2 linked regions of the Homo sapiens genome follow. The protein of the gene in region 2 purifies or fractionates together with the protein of the main gene of each other region. This does not show direct contact. Each region holds a gene or a part of one and is shown on either strand. Other genes may lie near its edges.

Evidence for each region. Proteins that work in one complex are often made in the same cells at the same time.
Region 1: the proteins of SLC39A8 (region 2) and MGAT5 purify together in Homo sapiens (affinity purification with mass spectrometry; 3 studies listed by BioGRID and IntAct, with this or other methods). This does not show direct contact.

The regions. Positions count from the first base shown.
Region 1 is NC_000002.12:134,260,572-134,264,071, forward strand, and holds part of MGAT5 (alpha-1,6-mannosylglycoprotein 6-beta-N-acetylglucosaminyltransferase A), read left to right. Parts: intron 1-3,500. UniProt on the Homo sapiens protein: Catalyzes the addition of N-acetylglucosamine (GlcNAc) in beta 1-6 linkage to the alpha-linked mannose of biantennary N-linked oligosaccharides.
Region 2 is NC_000004.12:102,303,983-102,307,482, reverse strand, and holds part of SLC39A8 (metal cation symporter ZIP8 isoform a precursor), read left to right. Parts: coding exon 1-47; intron 48-1,481; exon of another isoform or gene 1,482-2,287; intron 2,288-2,371; coding exon 2,372-2,494; intron 2,495-3,001; coding exon 3,002-3,166; intron 3,167-3,500. UniProt on the Homo sapiens protein: Electroneutral divalent metal cation:bicarbonate symporter of the plasma membrane mediating the cellular uptake of zinc and manganese, two divalent metal cations important for development, tissue homeostasis and immunity.

The DNA of each region.
Region 1 (3,500 bases), on a different chromosome or scaffold from region 2:
ATTTCATTAAAGATGCAAGCATGTAAAGGGTTTTTTAGTTTGTTTTGTTTTTCCACTTTTTTTTTGTGTCTCTCTTCCTACAAATAGGGAAATATGGTCAAGGAATAGGAATGGTTTCTTTTTTCTTTTTCTTTTTTTTTTTTTTTTGAGGGCTGGGACTGTTGTGGGATAATGTGGAAAACCACTGTTGCCAAAGTAGAAATCCCCTGCCCTTGAGGGAAATACACTGTTCTTGAAGTGAAAATGGTAGGGAAAAAAATAGCTGGGCTGTTCAGTGTGTCTGAGAAGGCTTTTAGTTACTGTATGGTGACGTGGCTGGTGTGATTAAAGAAAGGGCTTTCTGCTTTAAAAAGCTTGGAACCTAAAAATGGGCCTCTCTGTGGCTTGGGACTTTTCCAGCCATCCTGTGGTAGAGTCCAGCCTGCCCAGTATCCTCATCAAAGCCAGGCCAAGTTCACAAGCACGCCCAGGCCAGTCAAAAGGTCTGAGGAAGACCTCAGAAATGTTTTAGACAGGAGGAGTAAACTCAGAATAAGGGGCTCATTCTTCTACCCCTCAGTCATTAAGACCCTTTCTTTCATGCAGCACCACTACTTCAAGTCTGGATTGAGGAGGGATTGCACGCACATGTGTGAGGTTGGAGTCTCAATCTCAATGTGATTGTCATTGCCATGTTCAAACGATGAGGCTTAGAATGTCCCTTGTCTTACCTGATGGTCATAGCTCTCTATGACCCTCTGCTTCTTCCCAGCTGTGTCCTGGTGCTCTTTTGCTGTCAGAAGTGCTTGAGCAGACCTCTTGCTGCTGTGGACACCCTAAAAAGCTCCGCACCCCCTCAAGTCTACTAAGGCATGGTGGCTCTCTTCTAGGACAAGACTGTTGGGTGGTGGCTGAGCATTCGCCTGTCTTTGAGCGTCTGCATTTGCTCTCCCCCACCCCTTCCTCTCTTCCTTCTTTGTTTGTAAATAAAGTTGGTTAGAACACAGCCATGCGCATTCCATTCTGTTTCAGAGAAGTTAGCCTTCCCTCCTTCACAGGAGGGCCCAAACCCACTGTTACTCTCATTCTTTATAACACTCAAGCTACTTAGCATCAAGTATTTGTTGTATGAGCTGATCATGTGTCTCTCCCACTTACAATGTAAGTTCTGAAAGAGGAGGGACTTTGGTCTGTTTTGTTCCCCACTGTGCCCCAGAGCTTAGTACCTTTTGCCTGGCACATAGTAAGAGCCATGAATGAATAGCAGCAGCCCCTGGTGAAACTCTGTGATGCTCTGTGTGGTACAGTTACAGCTGGGACTCATTTGAAAATCACAGTAATGTTTTTAGTGAAGCAGGAAATGAGAAGAAATTCCCTATGGGCTCTGCATCTAAGAGGCTCCAAGTAGCTCTTATGCATGATCCTAACATGGGAACCATTGTTTATTCTGGAAGGTAGTTAGTGTTTCTGTTGGGCGGATGGAACACATTGTGTTCCTTACTGATGTGTGACCTTGAACAAGTCACCGATCATCTTAAAGCTTACTTCCTCTTTTGTAAAACAGACAATATAATATCATTTAACCTCATAGGCTTGTTGTAAGGATTACAAATGACAAAGTTTATTAAGGCACTTAGATTAATTTAGATTATTCTTGTTCTTTTTTTTTGGTGTTGTTTTTGTTTTATTTTGTTTTGTTTTGTTTTGGAGATAGAGTCTTGCTCTGTCACCAAGGCTGAAGTACAGTAGTGTGATCAGGCTCTAGCAACCTCCCCCTCCCAGACTCAAGCCTTATGCCCACCTCAGCCTCCAGAGTAGCTGGGACTATAGGCATGTGCCACCACACTAGGCTAATTTAAAACAAAAGTTTTTTTCTGAAGATGGAGTCTCACTGTATTGCCCAGGCTGGTCTCAAACTCCTGGCCTCAAGTGATCCTCCCATCTCAGCCTCCAGAGTAGCTGGGACTATAGGCATGTGCCACCACACTAGGCTAATTTAAAACAAAAGTTTTTTTTCTAAAGATGGAATCTCACTGTATTGCCCAGGCTGGTCTCAAACTCCTGGCCTCAAGCGATCCTCCCACCTCAGCCTTCCAAAGTGCTGGGATTACAGGTGTGAGCCACTGTGCCCAACCAGCGCTTAATTAAAATGCATTCATTCCTATTAGTAATCACTAACTCTGGCTTGAATGTACCTGCATCTGTTACCACCCAGGCATAACTGTTCATGTAGATCTGACGTTGTTCATTTGTTTGAACACAGGGCTTCAGCAACCTGTTTATGTAGCTATTCTTAGCATTTACAGGGGTAGAGCCTGACCAGACATGAGAGGAAATATGCTCTGTTTCAGAAGAGGTCAGGCTTGCCACCACCCTACTAAACTAGGAGATGTGGTTGTCATTGCCCTGTTCAAAAGATACAGTTTTCTTCTGTGGGCTGTAAGATAAGCTGGGTATGGCCAAGTTCACCTTTGGATCTAACCAGGGCATTGGTGGTGGTGGTGTTTCTGGCATGGTACAGCAAGCAGGAAGCAGTAGTGTGCGAGGCCACCCTTTCCAAGAAGGTGCGGGCCCTGGCATCAGGTGGGGGACAATGGATAACAATAGGCTTGACCTCTCAGCACTTCTCTGATTCCTTATCTTTTCTATAAAAAAGGCTAAAATTCTTGGTTCCTATTCCCTGCAGCTGGCTACATGTTAGGAAAATTCAAAGAATAGCTTAAGAACTCTATTCAGGTTCCATAAAGCACTTAATATCATCAACAGGCCTAGAAAGGATCTTTTACCAGATTTCGATGCATGGAAACTTCCTCAATAGTAATGACACCCTCTGCAACACCTTAGGAAAAACATTCGCTTCTGGGCACAAGTTCTGGTGAAAGCTTAAATCTGTAGTTCTAACCCAGAAGAGAAGGCTAGTCAGTGTTGCTGAGCATCTGAGCTGCTCTTTGACTTTGGTGATAATTGTTTTATGCCCTTTTCTGTCCAGAATCTGCTGACTGGGACAACTGCAGGGTGGAAGCCACCTTTTTGTCAGTTCAGGAGCAGGCAAATTATCTAACATGTGGCTTTAAAATTCAAATGAGATAAGGCAGTAAGGGTCACTAAGATGTTTCTGGTGGGTATTGCCTTACATGACTTTAGGGTACTGGTGGCACTATCTTTGATTCTTAAGAGTACAATTCATTGTACTATGTATATATATTTAAAATAACACTTAATGCCTTTGTGACTTTGAAAATAATGTGAATTTTTATGTAAAATTAAAGCATATGAGGAAGTATGGAGAAGAATAAAGAATAAATACACTCTTTACCTCTAAATGCAGATCTTACCAGATAAAATTGATTTCCCTTTAGTTCTTTAAAAAAAAAAAGTGATACGTACATGTGTGTATATGTGTATATATGTACATGAATATATGCTTTTTTAAAAATTAAGATACTGCATTTCCTTATGCCATTAGGTTTTTTTTTTTTTTTTTTTTTTGAGATGGAGTTTCACTCTTGTTGCCCAGGCTG
Region 2 (3,500 bases):
CTATTGGGACTCTTTTTTCAAATGCAATTTTCCAACTTATTCCAGAGGTAAGGATGTTGGCTATTTGTTTCTGTGAATAATTGTTTCTTTTGAACGTTTTAGCACTTTGTATGTTTTTAGCCTCCATAATTCTTACAGCGTTTTATGGTCTAGTTTATAGTGTCTTGGATAAGAGAAAGCTGAATCACAGCAATTGTAAAGGCTTGTCCCAAGCTGCAGTGGATATCACTATCAGAGACAAAATTAATATTCTAGGAGGCCAGCCACTAGGACGTGCTCAGACAGCTCTGGGACACCTCAGAAGGCCTTAAAACTTTATTCTGCCTTGCACTTGGCAAATTTAATTTTTCCACACACTGTTTCATTATTTATTTATTTATTTATTTTTCTAAAGAGCATGCAATGTCAACTGTACTGCAAATGTCAAATGTAAATTTATAATGTATTTAACATATACCACTAAATTCCCTCATATATTTACTACAGTTATAAGTGACTAGAGAGTAAATGAGAGCATGGTTGACAAACCTTTTCATTTTTTCCAACTGTGGAAAAAATATCAATTGAGGACTAATAAATAAATAGCAACTTATTTTTTTTCTTTGATAAAATGTGTTATTGATCTATCTTGACTATAGTGCACACTATTCAATTTATTTCAAATCTGTGTTGTGCCCATATAAGGAAGAGAAATGGAGGAAGGGAAATAAATGAAAGGAAAAGAGAGGCAATGTTGAAGAGGAAGGAAAGGAGAAAGAGACTTTCATAGAAGGGATCCACAAAGGGGAACTAGAGAAATATATGTATACATGGACTGTATCTGCCACCCACAATGCACACACACAGGGAGAGACAAACCCCATACAGAGAGAAAATATTAATAGTATTTCAGGGAGTACCACCCTTATCTCGTAATTTTTAGAAAATTATAACTAAAGCTTCCTTTAATTTTTCAAGCTATACATTGAAAGTGGGTATATAACTTTTTAGAGTTATAGATTTATTATCATTATTTGATCTAGGACCTAAGATAATATCTATTTCACAGCCTCAATTGTAGAGATAAAAAATATTAAAATTTAGGGTGGTTAAATAATTTGATTATAGCCTTACAATCAGCTAGTAACAAAGCTAGGATGACAATACAGATTTTCTGATTTAAAAGAGTATTATATACATAATACATTTAATATGATATAATATATGTATTTATTATCTCATCTGCTTTATGGGTCAAAGTAAATTAAACAAACTAATACTGTATGTGGACTAAAGACTCTACATTGATGATGTTAAGGTTTTCTATTTTCTTGAAGTTTAACAATATAAAGAATCTGTCTTTGTAATAATCTCTCAAATTTTCATAGAGTTTTTTGTAGCAAAATGATTTTCCTTTTCTTATTTCACTTTATTTTCATAACCTCAATGTTAGGTAAATGGAACATTTATATTTATATAGCCATTTTGCATTGTATAAACAGGCACAAAGAAGTTATTCAAATGAGGATGCGGCCATGATGTCTCCCCAGAGGCAAACATAGGACAAGAACCCAGACATCTTCTATTCTGCTTCAGAGGGGAGATTTACAATGTGTGGAATGGTGTAAAGTTGTGGCTTTTCACCCATTAGTCTCTCCTCTGATTCTATTTATTTGAAGTTTATGTGTCTTGTCTGTTAGGAACATCTTGACTCTTTATAACTTCAAACTCTAACTCCAGTTCTTTGTCCTTTAAAGAAAGAATTATTCCATTCTTATTGCTGTGTGTGTGTGAAAGAGAGAGAGAGAGTGGTGGCAATTTTAAATCTTCTTTTTGCTTTTATTCTTGGGCCTAGGCCTTGATTTATTTACCTTTTTAGGATTTATCACAGTTCTGTAGGTATAAGAGGATTTCTCTTGGGAAAACAGTAATCCAAGTGGCCTGCCATATTTGTTTTAAAAGTTTGATTCTGGATATCATGGACTAATATATTACTTTTAGAGACAGTAGGTAATCAATATCTCATTTATCTTCATTATCTAGACCTAATATCGTATTCTAAAGATGAGAATCAGAGCTGCTGCTTTACTGCTAAAAGTTTACTCTTTCAAGGCAAATATTGCTGTAGGTGTTATAGGTGGGAAACTGTAAGATTCTCTGGTGGCTTTATTTAATGAGACTTCTAGTTGTAAGGTTTTTGTGCCATCTCATACAGTTTTGTCATTCAAATTTCAAAGTTTTTGTTTTGTGATTTTTGGCAGCTAAGTTTCCAATATTACTTGGATGTGAAGAGAGACTTAGAACATTGGTGAGAATTGCATACTGGTATTATTTTCCAGAAATCAAGTTAAATTTCTTGGTTTTACTTGAATTGCCCTTTTTTCTCCCTTAGGCATTTGGATTTGATCCCAAAGTCGACAGTTATGTTGAGAAGGCAGTTGCTGTGTTTGGTGGATTTTACCTACTTTTCTTTTTTGAAAGAATGCTAAAGATGTTATTAAAGACATATGGTCAGGTAAATGGACTTTATTTAAAACATCCAATATTTTACCCCCTAAAGCTACTTTATATAGGCAAATAAAGACAGAAATTTTATTTTTAGAATTATGAGAATGGTCCAGTTATTAGGCTTGTGAGTTTAAGGAGAACAAAGAGTCAATATATTGACAAGTATAAGATAAATACTTGATTCATGTTGTAAAATTTGGAGGTTATTTTTGTTTTTTTTCAAGTATCAGCAATTTAATATTGAATAACAGATGTGCATAATTCATATTCTATTCATATTCATCAAAATAAGAGTGTATACGTGTTCTAACACGAACAAACAGTAACAGCAGAATCTAATAAATGAAAATACATGTAAAAAAGAGAAATTTTATATATCTAAAAATACTTCTTTACACATAGAATAGACATACAATTTTCCTCTTATAAATAAAAAGCAGTAAACTCTATTTCCTTGTCTGTATGAATCATCTTTTTTCTTCTTATAATCTCTTTGGTTTTTGTTCCCATATAGAATGGTCATACCCACTTTGGAAATGATAACTTTGGTCCTCAAGAAAAAACTCATCAACCTAAAGCATTACCTGCCATCAATGGTGTGACATGCTATGCAAATCCTGCTGTCACAGAAGCTAATGGACATATCCATTTTGATAATGTCAGTGTGGTATCTCTACAGGTATATGTTAATTCCATTTTTCCTTCATTATACTGCATTCTTTATACTGTGTAAACATGACTGTTTATGCAGCTAAGTCAGTTTTTGTACATTTATGTATGTCAGACTTATTCCTATATATGTGGGGTAACTGGAATGTAAGTCTGCATTGTTTTTCCACCTTCCCTGTATATGTTTACTCTAAACAAGTGAGTTAAGAAAGAAATTGTGGATCACTGTTCTGGACTTCATTATTCTCTAAGATTATTTACTATATGAGAGTCTCTCAATTGCATTTATACAATATTATATAGCAAAATTTATTCAGAGCATTTATTTTACAATTCTTTGAAGA